4 linked regions of the Homo sapiens genome follow. The protein of the gene in region 1 interacts with the protein of each later gene in a pairwise test. Each region holds a gene or a part of one and is shown in the gene's direction. Other genes may lie near its edges.

Evidence for each region.
Region 2: the proteins of AXIN1 (region 1) and FBXW11 interact in binary tests that used the Homo sapiens proteins (3 or more experiments, as listed by UniProt).
Region 3: the proteins of AXIN1 (region 1) and CSNK1E interact in binary tests that used the Homo sapiens proteins (3 or more experiments, as listed by UniProt).
Region 4: the proteins of AXIN1 (region 1) and GSK3A interact in binary tests that used the Homo sapiens proteins (3 or more experiments, as listed by UniProt).

Annotation. Positions count from the first base shown.
Region 1 is NC_000016.10:307,165-312,230, reverse strand, and holds part of AXIN1 (axin-1), read left to right. Parts: intron 1-2,161; coding exon 2,162-2,258; intron 2,259-3,605; exon of another isoform or gene 3,606-5,066. UniProt on the Homo sapiens protein: Component of the beta-catenin destruction complex required for regulating CTNNB1 levels through phosphorylation and ubiquitination, and modulating Wnt-signaling.
Region 2 is NC_000005.10:171,996,154-172,001,219, reverse strand, and holds part of FBXW11 (F-box/WD repeat-containing protein 11), read left to right. Parts: intron 1-4,168; exon of another isoform or gene 4,169-4,330; intron 4,331-5,066.
Region 3 is NC_000022.11:38,289,706-38,294,514, reverse strand, and holds the end of CSNK1E (casein kinase I), read left to right. Parts: coding exon 1-173; intron 174-266; coding exon 267-406; intron 407-1,195; coding exon 1,196-1,228; 3' UTR 1,229-1,260; intron 1,261-2,576; 3' UTR 2,577-3,824; downstream 3,825-4,809. Other genes in the region: TPTEP2-CSNK1E (casein kinase I), read left to right, coding at 1-173, 267-406, 1,196-1,228.
Region 4 is NC_000019.10:42,235,618-42,240,683, reverse strand, and holds part of GSK3A (glycogen synthase kinase-3 alpha), read left to right. Parts: intron 1-541; coding exon 542-729; intron 730-3,742; coding exon 3,743-3,826; intron 3,827-3,967; coding exon 3,968-4,078; intron 4,079-5,066. UniProt on the Homo sapiens protein: Constitutively active protein kinase that acts as a negative regulator in the hormonal control of glucose homeostasis, Wnt signaling and regulation of transcription factors and microtubules, by phosphorylating and inactivating glycogen synthase (GYS1 or GYS2), CTNNB1/beta-catenin, APC and AXIN1.

The DNA of each region.
Region 1 (5,066 bases):
GCTTTTGTGCTGGCGGCAAGCTCACAACATTCCACATGGCACTCGAGAGGCTGTGGGCTGTGGACACAGATGTGGGGTCAGTGTCTAATCCACGGAGGCCTGTGGAGGTTACCCAATCCAAGTATCATGTCTAAGAAACCAGTAGGTTGGTGGCTTCAGGACACTTCAACAAACCCCGAGGCAAGTGTTAGGTGAGTTTTAGATTCACTTGTTCCTGACGCCCACCGTGGCTGAGCCAGACCTGGACTCGGCTCACCATTGCCCACAACACTCAGTGGTGCTGTGACAGCCGAGGATGCCTCAGGAGTTGCCGTGTCTGCCACGCAGCCCTGGGTCGGGCGCTCTCTTCAGTCGTCCTGTGTCTCCTGGCAGCTCTGAGAGGCCCCTGGGTGCGGCACGGATCCCTGGAGCTGCCGTGCTTCCGAAGGCAGCTTTTCTTTCTTTCTTCCTTTTCTTTTTTGAGACGTAGTCTTGCTCTGTTGCCCAGACTGGAGTGCAGTGGCACAATCTCGCCTCACTGCAACCTCCGCCTCCCGGGTTCACGCCATTCTCCTGCCTCAGCCTCCCGAGTAGCTGGGACTACAGGCACTCGCCACCACACCTGGCTAATTTTTTGTATTTTTAGTAGAGACGGGGTTTCACCGTGTTAGCCAGGATGGTCTCGATCTCCTGACCTCGTGATCCGCCCGCCTCGGCCTCCCACAGTGCTGGGATGACAGGCATGAGCCACTGCGCCCAGCCCGAAGGCAGCTTTTCTAATAGCTGGGAGAGGGCGAGGGCTTTCATGAAGGATGGTTGTGCGTGAGTTATCTTAACCCTGGGGTAATTATTCAGACCATGTATAATCTGACTTTCGTGTTTTAATGATCTTCTAAAGGGTTCATAAAGAAAACCTGTTGCGGGCTGGGCGCGGTGGCGCATGCCTGTAATCCCAGCAGTTTGGGAGGCCGAGGCAGGCGGATCACGGGGTCAGGAGATTGAGACCATCGTGGTTAACACAGTGAAACCCCGTCTCTACTAAATAATACAAAAAATTAGCCGGGCGTGGTGGCGGGCACCTGTAGTCCCAGCTACTCGGGAGGCTGAGGCAGGAGAATGGCGTGAACCCGGGAGCGGCTTGCAGTGATCCGAGATCGCGCCACTACACTCCAGCCTGGGCGACAGAGCAAGACTCCGTCTCAAAAAGAAAAAAATAAAAGAAAACCTGTTGCTAAAGAGCTACCTTGTGCCTCCCTCAGAGACCACACTGCCCTGCCAGCTCCTGGAGAGAAGCAGAGTGTGCAGCCTTGGCATCTCCTATCTTTCCGTGGGGCACTGGTTGTCCTGGCTGCCCACTGTGCAATCCTGAAATGTTTTTGGTCCATTTAGCAATGCCCTCCAAGGCAGGCACACTGCACAGTGGTCTAGGCCACAAGCAGGGGCCAGCAAACGTTTCCCGTGCAGGGCTGGCAGTGAATATGTGAGGCTTTGCAGCCGCATGCAGTCCCTGTCACAGATTCTTCCCCCACCCTTTAAAAATGTAGAAACCTTGGCCGGGCGCCGTGGCTTGCGCCTGTAATTACTCCCAGCACTTTGCGAGGCCGAGGCGGGCGGATCACGAGGTCAGGAGATCGAGACTCTCCTGGCTAACACAGTGAAACCCCGTGTCTACTAAAAATACAAAAAAATTAGCTGGGCGTGGTGGCGGGCACCTGTAGTCCCAGCTACTCAGGAGGCTGAGGCAGGAGAATAGCGTGAACCCGGGAGGTGGAGCTTGCAGTGAGCCGAGATTGTGCCACTGCACTCCAGCCTGGGCGACAGAGCGAGACTCCATCTCAAAAAAAAGAAGAAAAAAAAATGTAGAAACCACTCTTAGCTGTCAGGCCCTAAAGAACAGGCAGGCACAAGGAGGCTTTGTGGAGGTGCCCAGTAAATACCAGCTAGGAAGACGCGTGGCTGGGCACCTGGGCTTTACCATCACGTGTGAACCTTTGTGTGTACATGTTCCCCTGTGCACACATGGGTGCCTGCATCACCTGTGTGCACGTGTCTCAGTGGTGGTGGCTCACAGGTGTCCTCATCATTGCCTGCTGACCGGCGGTCGGGGCCAGGAGCTCTATTGGCACGGTGCTGGCCCTCCTGCTCCTCTCTGAGTTAACGGCTGCCTCTTTCTCCTGGACAGGGATGGGATCCCCCCATACAGGATCCGTAAGCAGCACCGCAGGGAGATGCAGGAGAGCGTGCAGGTCAATGGGCGGGTGCCCCTACCTCACATTCCCGTAAGTACCGGCTTTGCGGTCCTCAGCCCATCGTCCTCCCCGCTCAGCGTGGGCCTGGTGAACTGGTCCGCGGGAAAGGCACTTGCCTGGCCTCCCACGAGCCAGGCTTACCTCTAGGCGTAAGCGTGTGATCCCAGCAACATCTGCAAGTGGCCAGTCCCTGAGGGCAGCAGGGGACATCAAGTCTCAGGCAGCATTTAGGGCCCAGAGGGAGCTGTTCATTCAGAAGAGCCCCCATGCCCCAAGGCCACACCCTCCCTGGTGGCAGGAAGTGTCTTGCCTTGTGAAGGTGGATGCTTCCCCTCAAGAGGGGGAGCTCTGAGCCTTTCTCAAGACTCAGAGCCCAGGCCTGGCCCCTGCACAGCCCTTGGGGAAAACTTGGTGTTTTTGTGGCTGAACAGTGGTCGTCTCCAGGTAAACGTCTTGACTTTAAAGCTGCCTTGGCTTTCGCTGTTGCATAGAATAATGGCACCTTTGCCCAGTCTCGGGCATGGGGGCTTGGCTGGGCAGTAGGTCATGGAGCTGAGTGCTAGCTGGAGCCCAGCACAGCCTGACTCCGTCTACAGAGCATTCCTGCGCTGATGAACAGATTAATGATCTTTCCTTATTTTGATGGGTTGACTTTGAACAGGAAAGATGTTACGGGAAGATGAGAAAAGTGTTTTCTTTTTTTTTTTTTGAGATAGGAGTTTTGCTGTCACTGCAAGCTCTGCCTCCCGGGTTCACGTCATTCTCCTGCCTCAGCCTCCCGAGTAGCTGGGAGTACAGGCGCCTGCCACCACGCCCGGCTAATTTTTTGTATTTTTAGTAGAGATGGGGTTTCACCGTATTAGCCAGGATGGTCTCGATCTCCTGACCTCGTGATCCGCCCGTTTCAGCCTCCCAAAGTGCTGGGATTACAGGTGTGAGCCACTGCGCAACGCACTGTTAGCCGCGGTGTCTGAGGTTAAACCACGTGACCATCTGAGTGTCTGTGCAGGGAAGTAGGCATTTTGAGAGCACTGACACAGTCTTGGTCAGGATTTCTTAGCCTTTTAGCTTTTCTGCAGACATCAGTTTCCAAGTCAGGAATTTCTTTATGGTTGAAAAGAAAGGATGTTGGTTTGTTATCACTTCTGAGAAGATGCCAGCCAACCCTTGACTCAGGTTTGGCTAAAACTAGGCACTGATGGTGTCTACTTAACAAAAAGTGGCTGACACTGTAGGCTGTGTGTGGGTGCGTGCGTGTGTGCGTGCTTGTGCTGTGGAAGATCTGGGGCCCTGCCTGCCAGGCATGGCCCAAGGCTATCATGAGGTCACAGCCCAAGTCGAGGGCACCTGCACAGCCACCGGCCTCTGATTTTCAAGTCACAGGTCCTGAACGTCAAGAACCCGCGGAGCCGCTGGGATGACGGAGGCCCGAGAGACAAGACAGCTGAGCAACCACAGGCCCGGAACAGCCCTCTGTGCCCATGAGGACGGGGCTTGAGTGGGCTGAGGCCCGCGGGAGGCTTCTGTCCACAGGGGTGCCCCGATTTTGGGGTGCTGGTCAGAGTCTTCGTGTGTAGAAAGTGCATGCCACAGACTCTGGATGAGGGGGCATCAGGCAGACAACCTCCCCTCAGAAGGGTCAGGAAGGACAGAAGCTGTGGAGTGCGTTGGTGCCTGGAACGTGGACCTGGAAAGACCTCTCAGGATGCAACACAGAGAAAAGAGGATGCCTATGGCGAGTCCCTGGTGTCGTCGTCAGAACCTTCCAGAACCGAGGGAAGCACAGAGCCCTCAGGTCCTGGAGGGTCACATTTGAGTCGCCAGGAAGATGAAAGCCAACAGAGGCGGCAGGCACAGACAGGAGCAGGCCCTGCTGCGTTCCGCACCCCCAGAGGGCCCTTGTGTGGTGGGGTGGGGGCCGCAGTGTGCGTTTCTGTGTGAACAGTCTGCAGCAAACAACCTCATCGGAGGCTCTGTAGGAACCTGCATCAGGTCCATGTGGCCTGTCAGGTGGGGCTGTGGTTGGAACCTTCGGTGGGAGGTCCCTCAGCCAGAGGCCCAAGTGAGAAACCCACATCACGGGCACAGCTGCCCGGGGCCTGCTCACTGCTGCTACTGGGAAACTGGACCCGAGGATGGTGGTGAGCAGAGGCGGGGGGAGGCCCAGGAAGCCGATAAGCTAGCAGGACGTGCCGTGGTTGCACTGCCCACTTCTGCTCTGTTGAGGGCCTTGGTTTTGCAAAAGCTATGCCGTTTCTCTGGTGAGTCCATGGCTCTGCAGCAGGGACAGCAGGAGGGGAGTAGCTTAGACGCTCATAGGAGCAGAACCCTGTTGTGGCTGCACCCACGGAGGCCCAGGCTGTGTGCACCTTGTGAGACTCTTTAACACCTGCCCATCAGAGTTGGAGCAGGTTCATCCCGAAAAGCCCCCTGCCCCCACTGTCCATGGAAAAATTGTCTTCTACAAAACTGGTCCCTGGTGCCAAAAGGTTGGGGGCCGTGGCTTTACAGCATCTGGTACCAGAATGCGTGCCCTGCGGGGAGGGGCCTCTTCATCTTTAGCCTTTACAATTACTTGGAAGTTTCACGTTTTCATTTACTTGGCTTTTTCCTTTATGATATTTTTTTCTGTTCCTCTAAAGCTGGAGAGGTTGCCATTCTCTGTAAATCTGATGACTCTGACAGTTTTGCTGTTCTCAGAACCGTGGTGACGCAGCCTGCAAGGCCACCTGGAGTCTTTTTATGGAGCTCGCGTGGCGGCATGAGTGCTCCTGTTGGCCCCTCAGCCGTGCTGCTCTCTGGGCCTGATGATGGGCTTTTCATCCTGCCCTTGGTCTC
Region 2 (5,066 bases), on another chromosome or scaffold:
TCAATATGGATTTAAATTAATGTTAGATTTTCTTTCTTTCATGCAGTGAAACCTTTTAAGATTTCCTTTTGAATATCTTAAGACAAAGGTAGAGATGAATAGAGAAGAAAGATGGGGAGGGGGAAGAGGTGGGTGGTGTGTTGTTTATAGGACATCCATAGACATATTAACCATTATTTACAGACTTTCCACACATACAGATTGATTTACATAGAACTCAGAGACTGGTTGTTAGCAAAGAACTGAGGAAACTGAATACTTTTTGCATCAGTTGGTGCAGGTTTGCCAAATAGTTGATAAGCTCCAAGGGCTCCATGACCTTAGAAAAGCATGGTTTAGCAGAAAGGGCATGGGCTTTGAAGTGAAACACCTGAGTTTGTATCCAAGCTCTGTCGCTTGCTAGCTGTGTGACATAAAGAAAGGTAACCTTTCTGCAGTATGATTTGATTATATGTAAAAATAAATAAGAAAACTTAGGTATTGGTCTGAGTTGTTGGGAGGATTATATGAGAGATGTGTGTGAAAGGACTTTGCAGAGGCTTGCTTTTCTTCAAATGCTGACCATACTAACTTTCCCCACAAGTACAGGGACCCTAAAGCGAAGTCAAGACCGATGGTGTGGAAAAGGTCTTTCTCCTGAGTTGCGCATGTATTTATTTGTGAGGCTTTACAGAAGACTAACATTTAGTTGCTTTTAGCCATACATTTAATGAGCCATCTTTGGGAAAAACAATGAAATCATGCAGAGTCAATACTGTCTTGGAAAATCTGGGAGGTACTATTTCAATGACTACCAATTTGGCGTAATTAGATCTATGCTGTAACTACAGAGAGAACCCACCCAGTCCTATTTTTATGCCTGGTATCCTGACAGAAAGAGACTGGTGATTAGTTTATATTGACATTGAGCATTGGGATTTATGTTTGATCGGTTTAGTTTAGACTGACCAAATTGTGGTTTTTGAATTCTTATTCTTACCATCATCAAAGCTGATGGTTTTAACCTTAACAGAATAAGCAGTGAGAATTCATACAAGATTTTCTTCTGAGTTGTATTGTTCATTGAATTAGATGACAATGGGGGAAGAAACGTGTTGGTTAAGAATGTGCTCGTTACCCTTGGTTAGTTTCTGCTGATCGCAATTGCTTAAGAGGAAGTTTGTCTTTGTAGGCAAATGAGAGACAGACCAGGAAGACCTGACAATCCAGTAGGGTATCTCTTACCTGGTTCTTAGTGTTTTAATGAAACTAAAAGATGGAAGAGTTCTGTGATGTCAGCGGGAAGCGTTTTTAGGAAATTCCCTCTCAGGTTGAGTTAACAATGAAGAGCTTCACAAAATGGAAAGCTGTGAAGTATAAACACTGGGACATTAATAGGAAAAATAAAAAAAAAAGCTTTGGCTCTTTGGCTTGTGATAGAGAGGTGTGTAAATATAAGCATATTGAATGTAGGAAACCATTGTATAGTAAAAAGCCTCTGATCCACAGAAGAAAAAGAAAGACTGAGGTTCTACTATTGTGAAAAAGGAACTTGAGTAATTTTTAATGTTTATTTTTTTAGGAGTTAACTGGAGAACATTGAACCAGTTTTGGTAACTAACAATAAAATATATTTTGGCCCTCTGAAATGACTACATGATAGATTCAAAGAGAAAGGGGGCAGAGGGGCAGGAAGAACTCAGTCCTGACACTACTCACCTGGCATCTGTTAATCTTTGTATTACTAGCATAAGGCCTGCCAGCAATTAGGGATTGAAGAAATATATATATACAATTAGGGATTGAAGAAATATATATGTGTGTGTATATATATATATATTTTTTTTTTTTGAAGGGAAGGGAGAAAAATTAACTCACTAGTACAGGGGAAAAGCCTGAGGATTCAAGAGGTCCAGAAATGAGTCTGTTAGTCAAATTGCTGTGGTTGTGTTTTGCTATAACTTGTTTTGCATTTTGGATAGTCGTACCTTGAAAAGCATAGTATACTGTTTTAGCAGTTCGCTACTAGCCATAGTTCCCTAGCTACTTCTGTCAAAATTGGGTTTCCAGTTTATTCTTAGGCTTAGGAGTAATACCACTTAATGGGAAAAACTTGAGAACTCATTATTTGCTTGGGATTTTACTTTTGTGATCTCCTTAAAGTTGTGAGTCTTAAGGTATTTTCATCTGATTGTTATGGCGAGGTTAATCATAGACCGGTATTTCAGTCACTTTAATTGCCTTACCTACAATATGAACAATCAGAACATCTTTAAGAGTCATTGCCTGTGGACTGTCAACAAATCTTAGAATTTAAAAATTACTTGGGTTCAGCTGGATTTGAGATTCTTTGTCACAGTTACAATCTTTGCTGCTAAACACAAAGACTACTTGAGTACCATTATAGTATGTCTTGCCACAGTCTTTTTTTTTTTTTTTTTTTTGAGACGGAGTCTTGCTCTGTTAACCAGGCTGGAGTACAGTGGCACGATCTCAGCTCACTGCAGCCTCTGTCTCCCGGGTTCAAGTGATTCTCCTTCCTCAGCCTCCCGAGTAGCTGGGATTGTAGGCATGTGCCACCAGGCCCGGTTAATTTTTGTACTTTTAGTAGAGATGGGGTTTCACCATGTTGGTCAGGCTGGCCTCACACTCCTGACCTCAAGTGATCTGCCCGCCTCGGCCTCCCAAAATGTTGGGACTACAGGTGTGAGCCATCGAGCCCAGCCTATAATGTGTTTTGTTTTAGCATTAATATTGTGGGCTTTAGGCTGGGCATGGGGGCTCACACCTGTAATCCCAGCCCTTTGGGAGGCCAAGGTAGGCAGATCGCTTGAGCTTAGGAGTTCGAGGCCAGCCTGGGCAACATGGTGAAACCCTGTCTCTACTTAAAAAAAAAAAAAAAAAGACAAGAAAAAAATATCATGGGCTGTAGAATTGCATGGCTCTTTGTTAATTAAATGCTTTTTTAAGTGGCAAGATCTAGGGAATTACCCTTTCAGGATGGCCCAACTGATTCATGTAGGCTGAAATATTTACTCTTCTGTATTTTCATTGTTCTCCATTTTGATGTTAATTAATTTAGGACCTTTGAGAGTAAAGCTTGATTTCTTCTCCTCTCTCAGAAATCATGGGCTTTCTGACCCTTGAACTGTGGAGTCCATAGTGCTCCATGAAAAGGGCATGGGCTCTACTACCTAGTAGATGTGGGACTTTGGATAGGTTACTTCTTTCTGCTCATCTTTTTTTGAGAATTAAATATGGGTAATTAATGTAAAGGGCTTGGCCAGTTAGTAGCTTTTCAATAAGGTAGGTATTACTATAATTACTGCAGGAGCATTTTGGCTATAATGTAGCAATTGTGGAAGTAGCAAATTTATGTTCGAGTAAGTTCAGTCTTTTTGTTTTTATCTTTGTTGTTCTGCTGAATGCTTTTTCTCTTTCCCTTTTAGTTTGTTTAGAATTTGCAGTCTAATTTGATATGGTAGAAAAAGAATATTGATATAATATGGACAGGACTTAATATTTAATGGTGTCACCTAGTAAATTGTATATTAGCGTTCTTTATGATTTTTCCCAGTTTACGTGATCATTGGCCATTGTACGGGACTGGCCTTTACTGAGTCAGAAGTTCAGTCTTCAGTTATATGTTTTGAAGCACACTATATTTTAGCTAAGGGTAGAGGATTTGGGTAATATGTAGATATGATGTCTTATATGTAGCAAACCAAAACATTTTGTTAGGTACGTAAATAAATATCTTTATGGTAGATATTTGAGCCCTCTCGTATCATTCTTTTTGGCTGACAAACTATTTTTCTAATGGTGGAGGAGCTGTCTTAGAAAATGGATAAGGAAGTTCAGTGTAGCTGAATGGTCTAGGACAATTTATATGGATGATAGGGTAGGTATTTTTTAGCTGCTCTCATTTGGAAGTTGCATGCTGTTTATCATGAGTAAATATTAACATTAGGGATGTTCCATTATTTGTTACGAGTTTTGTATCCTTTCAACACAGAGGTGAGGAATGCTGCTGCAGGCATTTTATGCCAAATAGCTGACTCAGGGGTTATAACTTTTTTCCTGTGCCTCAGATCCACCATTCCATTGACCCTTCCTTCCATTTCTTGGAGGCTGTCCTTTGCCGCTGGTGCCATGGTGGGTGTATGGATTGCTTTCTGTCTTTCAACAGTTACCGAAGTGCATGTTTGGGATTTTGTTGAAGAAAGCTGGATACAGTAAACGGAAAGAATCTTGGAAGATGCTTGACTGCTGTCTTTTCTCAGACTAGTCTGAAAGGGAAAACCCCCATTCATTCTGGATTGGTGGATCTGAAGTACAAAATATTTTCCAGGTAAGCAATTACCCTGTATTGTTTTGTTTTGTGGAACTCAACTCGCTGAAAGAAATTTTGAAAAATATTTTCCCTTATTTATTTTGTCCATTAATAGGGAAAGGGAGAAATATTAGACGTTTGTGCGTAGTGTCATGTTTGGCCATGTTTGAGTGTGGATCAGTGAAGGTCTATGTGTCTGAATTCCTGGTAAAAACTTTGTTTTACTGTAAGAAGTGCAGTTATTATTATCTTTGAGACATCAGGTCGCCCAGGCTGGACTGCAGTGGCACAAACATGGCTTACTGCAGCCTTGACCTCTTGGCCTCACACGATCTTCCTGCCTTAGCCTCTCAGGTAGCTGGGACCACAGGCACATGTCACTATGCTCAGCTAATTTCTTTTTTGTAGAGACAGGGTCTCACCATGTTGCCCAGACTGGTCTTGAACTCCTGGGCTCGAATGATTTGCCTGCCTTGGCCTCCCAGAGTGTTGGGATTACAGACATGAGCCACCACGCCTAACTCAGTTATTTTTATTGTAAGCCCAAATAGTTTTTATTCATAGTCTAATAGGAAATACAGTAAACAGAGACATATGTTGTTTAGGGAATAGCTTGTAAAATATGGAAAACAAATGGTAACTTTGAGGCATTCTCACATGATTTATATAATAGTTAATACCTGGTCAAAATATTTTTTGCGGTTTCATGTAAAGTGGTGATATTTTATTCTGAGGTCTCTTGGCAGGTCGTCTT
Region 3 (4,809 bases), on another chromosome or scaffold:
GGATGTGGACCGGGAGCGGCGAGAACACGAACGCGAGGAGAGGATGGGGCAGCTACGGGGGTCCGCGACCCGAGCCCTGCCCCCTGGCCCACCCACGGGGGCCACTGCCAACCGGCTCCGCAGTGCCGCCGAGCCCGTGGCTTCCACGCCAGCCTCCCGCATCCAGCCGGCTGGTGAGCAGGGACTCAGGCAGTGGGCTGGGTTCAGGGTGGGTGGGGGGCTCTGTTTGTGCCTACTCTGAGGGTGGCTTCCCACTCTCCCTCCAGGCAATACTTCTCCCAGAGCGATCTCGCGGGTCGACCGGGAGAGGAAGGTGAGTATGAGGCTGCACAGGGGTGCGCCCGCCAACGTCTCCTCCTCAGACCTCACTGGGCGGCAAGAGGTCTCCCGGATCCCAGCCTCACAGGTGAGCTGCCCCCCTGCCAGTCCCTCTGGGCCTCAGAACTGAGTTAGAGACCCCCCAGTGGGAGGTCAGGCCGTGGCTCTGTTCTTCCCTTTCCATCGACGCTGCTTGCCTTGGAGTGAACCCCTTCTGTAGAGCCAGGACTTGGCCTCATTTAATCCTCTGAGGTCTGATGAGCCCTCTTGAGCAAAGTCATTCACCAAGGCTCAGGGCAGTAACATTCCCTGGCAAGTGGCACAGCTGGGCTCCAGTCCTCGCTGCCAGGGGCCCAGCCAGGGTGGGCAGCAGGGGCTCAGAGATGAGGTGTTGCTGCTCCCTGACATCAGGGAGCCCCCAGGAGCCCCTGTGAGCATTGGCAAGAGCATGGGGTGTAGGGGCAGTGAGGTCCCATCCTCTTTGGGGCTATGTTTGGATGGGGACACTTGGGAAGGGGGAATCTGTAGTTGCCCAGGGCAGGTGGCCTGGCAGAGGTGGGTGGGAGCCCTGCCCTCGTCCTCCTGCCTGTGGGCGAGGAGGGAGTCCTGCGAGAGAACCCTCATTGGCCATCTACTTAGGTAGCAGGTTTGCCTCCCTGGGCAACATTCTTAGCTACAGACAGGGACATCTTAGAGTCACTGGAATCACACAGGCCTTCCCTCAGCTTGAGGGGCTGCCTGGAGGTGGGGGTGGGGGTACACCTCCTCAGTGGGGAGAGACTTGCCAAATCTCTATCGCCAGCGGCTAAGGGACTTGACTTGAAGCTTGTACCTCCCTCTCTCTCCCTCCCCCTCTCTCCCTCCCCACCCTCAAAAGACAAGTGTGCCATTTGACCATCTCGGGAAGTGAGGAGAGCCCCCATTGGACCAGTGTTTGCTTAGGTGAGTCCATGACTGCTGCAGATGCAGCCAGCCCAGCCGACCTAGAAGCTCCCAGGGCCCCAGAAAGAGACCAATGTGTTGTGGAGGGGTGGGTGGCAGTGGCAGTGGCAGATGGTACCAGGCGCCCCAGAACTCTAAGGGGCCTCAAGTAGTTTAAAACCTCGGAGGCTGCCTGACTTGGGGCCAAGGGTTTCTATGCTCAGGCCTGACCCCTCATGGATTAGTTTCTGCTGGAAAAACTTTTTCTGCCCTCGGCCAGGTCTCTATCTCCTTCTGCCTTAACATATTTTGGAAGGTTGGTTCCCAGCAGAGACGGGGCCATGGGCTCACACTCTGACCTCTCCCACGGCATTAGCCCTGTCTCAGCCTCTGGGCTGTTACGCAAGTTAATTCCTGCACAAGACTCACAACAGGGCTGTGGAGGAAGCAAAGGAGCCCTTTTTATGCCTCTGTAGTAGGACTGAGAGAGGCCCTCTGGCCAGCGTGAGCCTGCTGGTTCTTCCCGGACTGTACCAGGCCTTGAGGCGGGGTATGGAAACGCCCCACTCTGGGGCCTGGCTTGGGGAAGGGGAGGCGGCAGGGGTTCTTTGGGCTTCTCGAGGGTATAATCTGAGCTCTCTGGGGAACGTGTGTCCATTTGTAGGCAGTAGTCCGACACGTCGGGGGACTCAACTTTACACTGGGACAATCTGTGTGTGGTCTGTTTTGTAGAAATTCATCCACACAAGAGAGTGGAGGCATGAACAGGGCTGGCCTTCCTCGGATCTCAGGCCCAGGAACCAAGCTGTCCATGGCGGGCTGGGCAGATATTTGGGGGTGGGGTGGGGAGATGCTCACCAGGAGGGCAGAGAAGGGAGAGAATCCGTTTCTGTCACATGAAGATGGATCTCCTAGCGTGCTGGGCCTTGAGCCAGGCTCTGGGGCCCAGAGGGAGATAGACCAAGGGACGAGAAGACAGGAGTTTGGGGGGCCAAGTGCAGTGGCTCGCACCTGTAATCCCAGCACTTCGGGAGGCCCAGACAGGTGGGTCACTTGAGGTCAGGAGTTCGAGACCAGCCTGGCCAACATGGTGAAAACCCATCTCTACTAAAAACACAAAAATTAGCCGGGTGTGGTGGCACACACCTGTAATCTCAGCTACTCGGGACGCTGAGACAGGAGAATTGCTTGAATCTGGGAGGTGGAGGTTGCAGTGAGCCGAGATCGTGCCACTGCACTCCAGCCTGGGGGACAGAGCGAGACTCCATCTCAAAAAAAAAAAAAAGTAGCCAGAGACAGCTGTGTACCTCACCTGTCTTTTCCCTTCTCCCTTCTAGTGTCTTCACTGTATTTTCTTTAAAAAAAAAAAAAAAAAAAAAAAGGCAAAAATAAACCACTCAAAAGAACAACAAAAAAACCCAGCACAAAACCGACGATGGAGTTTGTTTCTTTGATTTCTTTGCCAATGGCAAGAAGATGAGATGCCCTCAGCACTGAGGATTCTTGCCCCCTTGTGGTGCCCGCTGCCCCCAACCTTCAGGCTGCCAGATGCTCCCCTGACAACACCAGGCTACAGGAGCCAGACGCCAGGGCCTGCCCGGCCTCCTGTTCCTGCCCCCACCCACCACCTGCCTGGAGAGGAACGGGTCGGGTCCGTGTCGGAGAAGTGACAGGTCCCAGAGCCAAAGCCGGCCCTCAAGCATCATCAGGGAGTGGTGTAGTCAGTTGAAGGCAGTTCCCACCGAGTTTTCCGAGCCTCAGAATCCAGGAGATACGCACAGCCCCACCCACTCTGAGATGACAGTGGCTGACTTCCCGTGCTGGGCTTTTCCATTGTCCCCCTGGCCTCCAGGCTCCTCCTCTGCCTCTCCATGGAGTGGGTGGGGAGGTGGTGGGGGCCGGCGTCCCCTGCGTGTGTGTGTGTGTGTGTGTGTGTGGATGTATTGACCTGTGTTTCCCAAGACAGCAGGTGCCACGGCCCGCCCCGCCTGCCAGCCCGAATTCCCGTTCTCCTGTGTCTACTAACAAGGACATGGGGGTGGGCGGTGACCTCCGCATCCCTCAGAGCTCAGAGGGTCCTCGCTGCCACCGGTCCCCCCCTAGCCCGTCATCAGCCGGTGGCAGCTCCATCTTCCATTCCTGGTTTTAGGGCAGAATCCATGGAGACTGCTTCCAGAAGGCATCTGGCTCTGAGTTATAAATTACTTCCCTGGTCCTGACAGTCACCTGGGGTCCCCCCTCTCCCTGGTTCCACCTTTCTGAGGAGGAGCCTGGAGTCAGGGCTGGGTTTTGGATTAACCCATCCTTCCTAGTTAACACCTTTTTGTTTTTATTTTATTTTATTTTTGTTTGTTTTCTCCGTGTGTGTGTTTTCCTAATTTATTTACCTCTGTTTCCCCTTTTTCCTTTTTTTTTTTAATTAAAGAGCAAAGCTTTTTATTACTTTGTAATTTAAAAAACTGAAAAAAAAAAAACTGAAGAACTTTGGGGGGAATTTTGTACTTTTTTCCTGTGTAAATATTGGACTTTTTTGAGCTTTATCGTGGTTGTTAATTTGAAGTAATAAAGTAGAAAAGATAAAGTGATGCAGGCAGCCCTTTGTCCACCTCTGTGCCCTTAGGGCCTCTCCCTGCAGACCCGGAAGTGGGTCTTGCTGGGAGCAGCAGGAGTCAGTGAGGAACAAGCCCTCGCCCTGAAGGCAGGTGTGGCTGGGGCCACTTTCAGAACACTTGGGCTGTGGTTGGGATGTCCGGGGGCTTTGAAAACACGAGTGCACACAGGTGCCACGCCACAGGTGCCACGCGGGGGTCTTGTAAAGAGGGCTGGGGTGGGGCTGAGAGCTTCCCCCTGCACACTCCAGGTGTGCTGATGGCCTGGGGCCCCTCTTTGAGAAGCAAGGCCCTAAAAGCTCTTCACACATGATTTTATCCACACAAGTATCCTGAGTTAGGTCCTGTTAATAGCCCTGCCTTCGGACAAGAAACTGGTCCTGCTGTAAAATATCTTGCCCACAGTCACAGCTCTGGTGGCAGAGGCAAGACGAGCCGAGGTCATCTCGCTGTGGGGGTTGTGGGGGTGCTCTGACCCTCTCCACTGCTGACCCTGGGGCTCCATGAAGGAGAGTGCTGGAGCGAGCTCTGATAGTGACTCTGGATGAGGTCCTTCAGTCAAGCCTTGATAAAAGGGCAGCGCTCAGCCTCGCCTGCCTTGGTCTCACCAGCTTGGAAAAGAATCTGTCCATCTGCATTTACCCAACACAGTTTACTTCCTTTCGTCAACCGAAGAGCCATTATTGCCACAGTCTCAACCCAGAGGCAAGACGGAAGCTGTCTGGCTGATAGGTCTGCCTGGGAAGCGGATGGAGGGCCCTGGGAGGTTCCCCTCGGGCGTTTTGAAATCCTGGACATAGGTCAAGGCGCCTTCCAGTGCTGGCCGTCAAGACCCAGTGACCCACAGGCTCACGGCCTGGTGGAGGGTTTCCTGCTGTGTGAGGCCCAAGTAAAGGTGGGTCCCCTTTACAGGCATCAGGTATCAGGTGTGTTACCAAAGCCAGGAAATGCCAGTAGGCCC
Region 4 (5,066 bases), on another chromosome or scaffold:
AGGACATTCATTTCTGTCACCAAGAACCAGTAAAGTTACCAGCTCTACAGGGGAGGACTTAGAGGTCAGTATCCTCTAGGCTGTGAGAGAGGTTAGTGCTTTCCTAAAGTAGGAGTACCTCAGGGTTACTGCTCCCTGAAGTGGAAGAGGCTCGGTCAAGCTTTCTCCAAATAGGAGGGGCCAGAGGGCAGTAGATCCAGAGTAGATGGAGTCAACATCTGATGTCTCCCAGTACCAAGATGGACCAGTGATCTGTTGCTTCCTAGAAGTAGAAATTTGGGGTTGCCAACCCTTGAAGCAGAGAGATTTAGGTATCAATATCCTCCTATGTGGAGGGGAGCAGGACTTAAGATTCCCAGAAAGGAAGAGGGGAAAAGTCACTGGGAAGGTCCCAGCATCCACCTTTCCTCAAAGAGGAGGAGGGGACAAAGAGGTCCCCAACGAGCTTCCTGCAGAGATTTCCCTTCCTCCCACAGCCCCAGGATAGGGTGATGCGCAGGCAGGATGGGTCAGTGGATCGTGTATCCCCTTTGTTCCCCAGGTGACAGCGGGAAGGTGACCACAGTCGTAGCCACTCTAGGCCAAGGCCCAGAGCGCTCCCAAGAAGTGGCTTACACGGACATCAAAGTGATTGGCAATGGCTCATTTGGGGTCGTGTACCAGGCACGGCTGGCAGAGACCAGGGAACTAGTCGCCATCAAGAAGGTTCTCCAGGACAAGAGGTTCAAGGTAGCTTGGGCGGGATGGGGACAGGGAGGTTTGGGGACTGGGTGTGACTGGTGGGAGAACCTGAGCCAGAGAGCTGGAGGCTTGGGTTTCAGAGCCATGGGCCAGAAGAGAAGGGGGAAAAGAGGAAATGAGACCTGTGAAAGATGGGAAATGTGGATCCCAGGAGAGCCCAGAGCTTTTACTGGGCATTTGCTCAATGTAAGTGCTTAATAAGCAAATTCTTGTTTAATTTACATAAAGATTCTCTGAGGGTAGGTACTGTGGTTATACCCATTCTAAGTGTAAGCTAAGTTTAAAAGCAGGGAAACAAACTCAGGTAAGAGGATTGCCTGAGGTCATAGAGCAAGTGCCCCAGTCAAGGCTGGAATCTGATTCCCAAACCCTCTACCTTAACCATTTGGTTACACTTCTTCCCAGGAGAGAAAGGGACCTGGCAGGGCTAGCGCGGGTGGTTCTGAAGGTCGCGCTCTTCCCAGGTGTTTGGCCAGCGCAGAATGGAATGGAGGTGCCCTGTGAGCTAGGAGAGGCTCAGGGAACTAGAAGGAGATGGAGGAAGTGGAAGTTGAGGAATAATTGGTGTTTAAGGGCCTGGCATTTGGAGCTTAGACTAGTCTGGATGTAGGAGAACTGAGCCTAGACTGGAAAGGAACCAGACCAGGGCCTCGGTCTTGGCAGGGAGGGCCCTTGGGCAGGAGGAGCTCCAGGGTGTCAGAATTTGATTGGAGTTGAGTTCCAGAAGTAAGAGGGATGTAGGGGCAGGGAGTTCCTAGGCCTCACTGAGGAATAGAGAATGGGGAAGAATGCTGAGACCGCATTCTGGGAAAAGTCCAATGCCTGGAGTCTGGGACTCAGGATCCTAGATAGAGTTCGAGGACCCAGATGCTTCCACGGGACCAGAGTGAGCTGGATGGCCACTACCTGTCTGTTGTTGCTTGTGCCAGGTAGGGGGGCAAGCCTCATGTGCCCATGCCTGATTTTTTTTTTTTGAGATGGAGTCTTACTCTGTCACCCAGGCTGGAGTGCAGTGGCACGATCTTGGCCCGCTACAACCTCTGCCTCCCAGGTTCAAGCGATTCTTGTGCCTCAACCACCTGAGTAGCTGGGATTGCAGGCATGGGCCACTATGCCTGGCTAATTTTTTTTTTTTGTATTTTTAGTAGAGACAGGGTTTTGCCATGTTGGCCAGGCTGGTCTCGAACTCCTGACCTCAAGTAATCCGCCCCCACCTCGACCTCCCAAAGTGCTGGTATTACAGGCATGAGCCAGCATACCTAGCCCTGATTTTTCAAGACAAACTGAAAACTGGATTTAGATGTGAAATCTTTTTTTTTTTTTTTTTTTTTTTTTTGAGACGGAGTCTCATGCTGTCACCCAGGCTGGAGTGTGGTGGCGTGATCTCGGGTCACTGCAACCTCCGCCTGCCGGGTTCAAGCGATTCTTCTGCCTCAGCCTCCCTAGTAGCTGGGACTACAGGCGTGTGCCACCACTCTCGGCTAATTTTTTGTATTTCTAGTAGGGACGGGGTTTCACCGAGTTAGCCAGGATGGTCTCTATTTTTTTTTTTTTTTTTTTAAGACAGAATCTCGTTCTGTCACTAAGGCTGGAGTGCAGTGGTGTGATGTCGGCTCACTGCAACCTCTGCCTCCTGGGTTCAAGCGCTGCAACCTCTGCCTCCTGGGTTCAAGCAATTCTTGTACCTCATCCACCTGAGTAGTTGGAATCACAGGCGTGCGCCACCATGCCCAGCTAATTTTTTTGTATTTTTAGTAGAGATGGGGTTTTGCCACGTTGGCCAGGCTGGTCTCGAACTCCTGGCCTCAAGTGATTTCCCTGCCTTGGCCTCCCAAAGTGCTGGGATTACAGGGGTGAGCCACCATGCCCAGCTGTTTTTTATTTTATTTTTATTTTAAGGCTGGGTATGGTAGCTCATGCCTGTAATCCTTGAACTTGGAGAGCCCGAGGCAGGAGGATTGCCTGAGACTAGGAGTTCAAAACCAACCTGGCCAACATAGCCAGGTTCTTTTAAAAATAATAATAATAATAAATTTTATCTTATTTATTTATTTATTATTATTATTTTTTGAGACAGAGTCTGTCGCCCAGGCTGGAGTGCAGTGGCGCGATCTCAGCTCACTGCAAGCTCCGCCTCCTGGGTTCACGCCATTCTCCTGCCTCAGCCTCCCGAGTAGCTGGGACTACAGGTGCCTGCCACCATGCTTGGCTAATTTTTTTTGTATTTTTAGTAGAGACAGGGTTTCACCGTGTTAACCAGGATGGTCTCAATCTCCTGACTTCGTGATCCACCCACCTCAGCCTCCCAAAGTGCTGGGATTACAGGCGTGAGCCACCACGCCTGGCCCTGGCCTATCCTTTTTAAAACTTTATTTTGGAGAAAAAAATCAGAAGGTGCCATTTGGCTTTTACATGTCAGCAATAAGTTGAAAAAAAATTTTTTTTTAAGTGGGGTGGCTGGGCGCGGTGCCTCACGCCTGTAATCCCAGCACTTTGGGAGGCTGAGGCCTGTGGATCATGAGGTCAGGGAGGCTGAGGCAGGTGGATCACAAGGTCAGGAGATCGAGACCATCCTGGCTAACGTGGTGAAACCCCATCTCTACTAAAAATACAAAAATTAGCTGGGCGTGGTGGTGCATGCCTGTAATCCCAGCTACTTGGAAGGCTGAGGCAGGAGAATTGCTTGACCCAGGGAGGCAGAGGTTGCAGTGAGCCGATATTGAGCCACTGCATGCCAGCCTGGCAACAGAGCAAGACTCTGTCTCAAAAAAAAAAAAAAATGGGGTGAAGAAAACACATCTGTGGCCTGGGTTTAACCTGTGGGCTTCCAGCTCCTGTGGGAGGGGAATAGTCTGGAGACAAGGAATTGGGGGATACTCCAGGGGACCTTGGAGCTGGGACACAGGGAGTAGCTGCCTGGCTGTTGTTGGGAGTGAGTGTGAGTAGGGAGGAGCAGCCGAGAGAGTTGGTTGTATTCTGAGACTCTCCCTTTGCCCTCAAGAACCGAGAGCTGCAGATCATGCGTAAGCTGGACCACTGCAATATTGTGAGGCTGAGATACTTTTTCTACTCCAGTGGCGAGAAGGTGAGATCTCGAGGTGGTGGTGGTGGGTTGCTCCAGCCATTTTCCTGCCTGCCTGCCTTTCCCCCACTGCTCCCTGCATACCTTCCTTCCCCCTCCTCACTCTTCTCACAGTGCCTCACACCTCTCCTTTGCTCCCTGCAGAAAGACGAGCTTTACCTAAATCTGGTGCTGGAATATGTGCCCGAGACAGTGTACCGGGTGGCCCGCCACTTCACCAAGGCCAAGTTGACCATCCCTATCCTCTATGTCAAGGTAGGCCAGCAGGTGGGCTGCTGGGACCCAGGCCCACAAAGCCAGGGGCTCTGGAGCCTCCTGCCTTTTATGGGATCCCTCATCCGCCAAGTTTATGTTGGTTTTTGGAGGCCCCATGTCCCCTGCTGTTGTTCCCATAACCCCCCGAGATGGAGCTCGCCTAACACAGGGGAGGGCCAAGGCAGGCAAGGCCTGACTGAATCAGGAAGGCAGCCTGACACCTGGGGTTGCAGAAGCTGCCAGGTAGTTGCTCAGGTCCATACAGGGAGTCCAGTGGCACCAGAGATGTTGGAGTTAGCTCAGGATAAGGGGGTGGTGGGGACCAGGACTGCACAGAGACAGCTGCTGAGGCCAGAGTTCGGGCCTTTAGAGCCTTGGCTGGGGGTAGGTGGGAAGGAGTTAGGGCTGGAGGAAGGTTAGCATCCACAGAGCCAGGAATGCATCTCCGTCCATCATCTGTGCAGGCTCATTCCCCAGTGCCTGGCATCGTGCCCTGGGTGTTACAGACCTTCAGGAGGTGTTTGAATGAATGAATGAATGATTGCAGCCCAGGGATGATGTGGCGAACAGGCTGGAGCAGCCTACTGCATTGGAAGGAGGTGGGTGGGTTTGTTTGCTGAAGGTCACTTGGGGCCCAGCTGCTGCTCCTGCTGGCTTTACGTACCAAGCACGGGTGAGCCGACGTGGGCTCTACCAGTGGTTGTGGCTGTTGGACCTCACTTCCCAGGAGGGGAGCTCTCTGGTTTGGCGAATCTGTCCTGTGGCTGCCTGCATACGGGTCCCAGGGCTGAGGAATTCCAGAGGCACCACTGACTGCGACCCAGGCCTTGGCCTTGAAGAGCTCTCAGTTTGGTAGGGTAGAAAGGCGTCATCACAGAAAACTATTAAATGAACTAGCTGCTGCCATACCAGAAGGAGCACAGGGAATTCTGGAAATGGAGGAAGCACCCAGCCTGGTTTGTGGGTGAGAAGGATCAAGGAAGGCTTC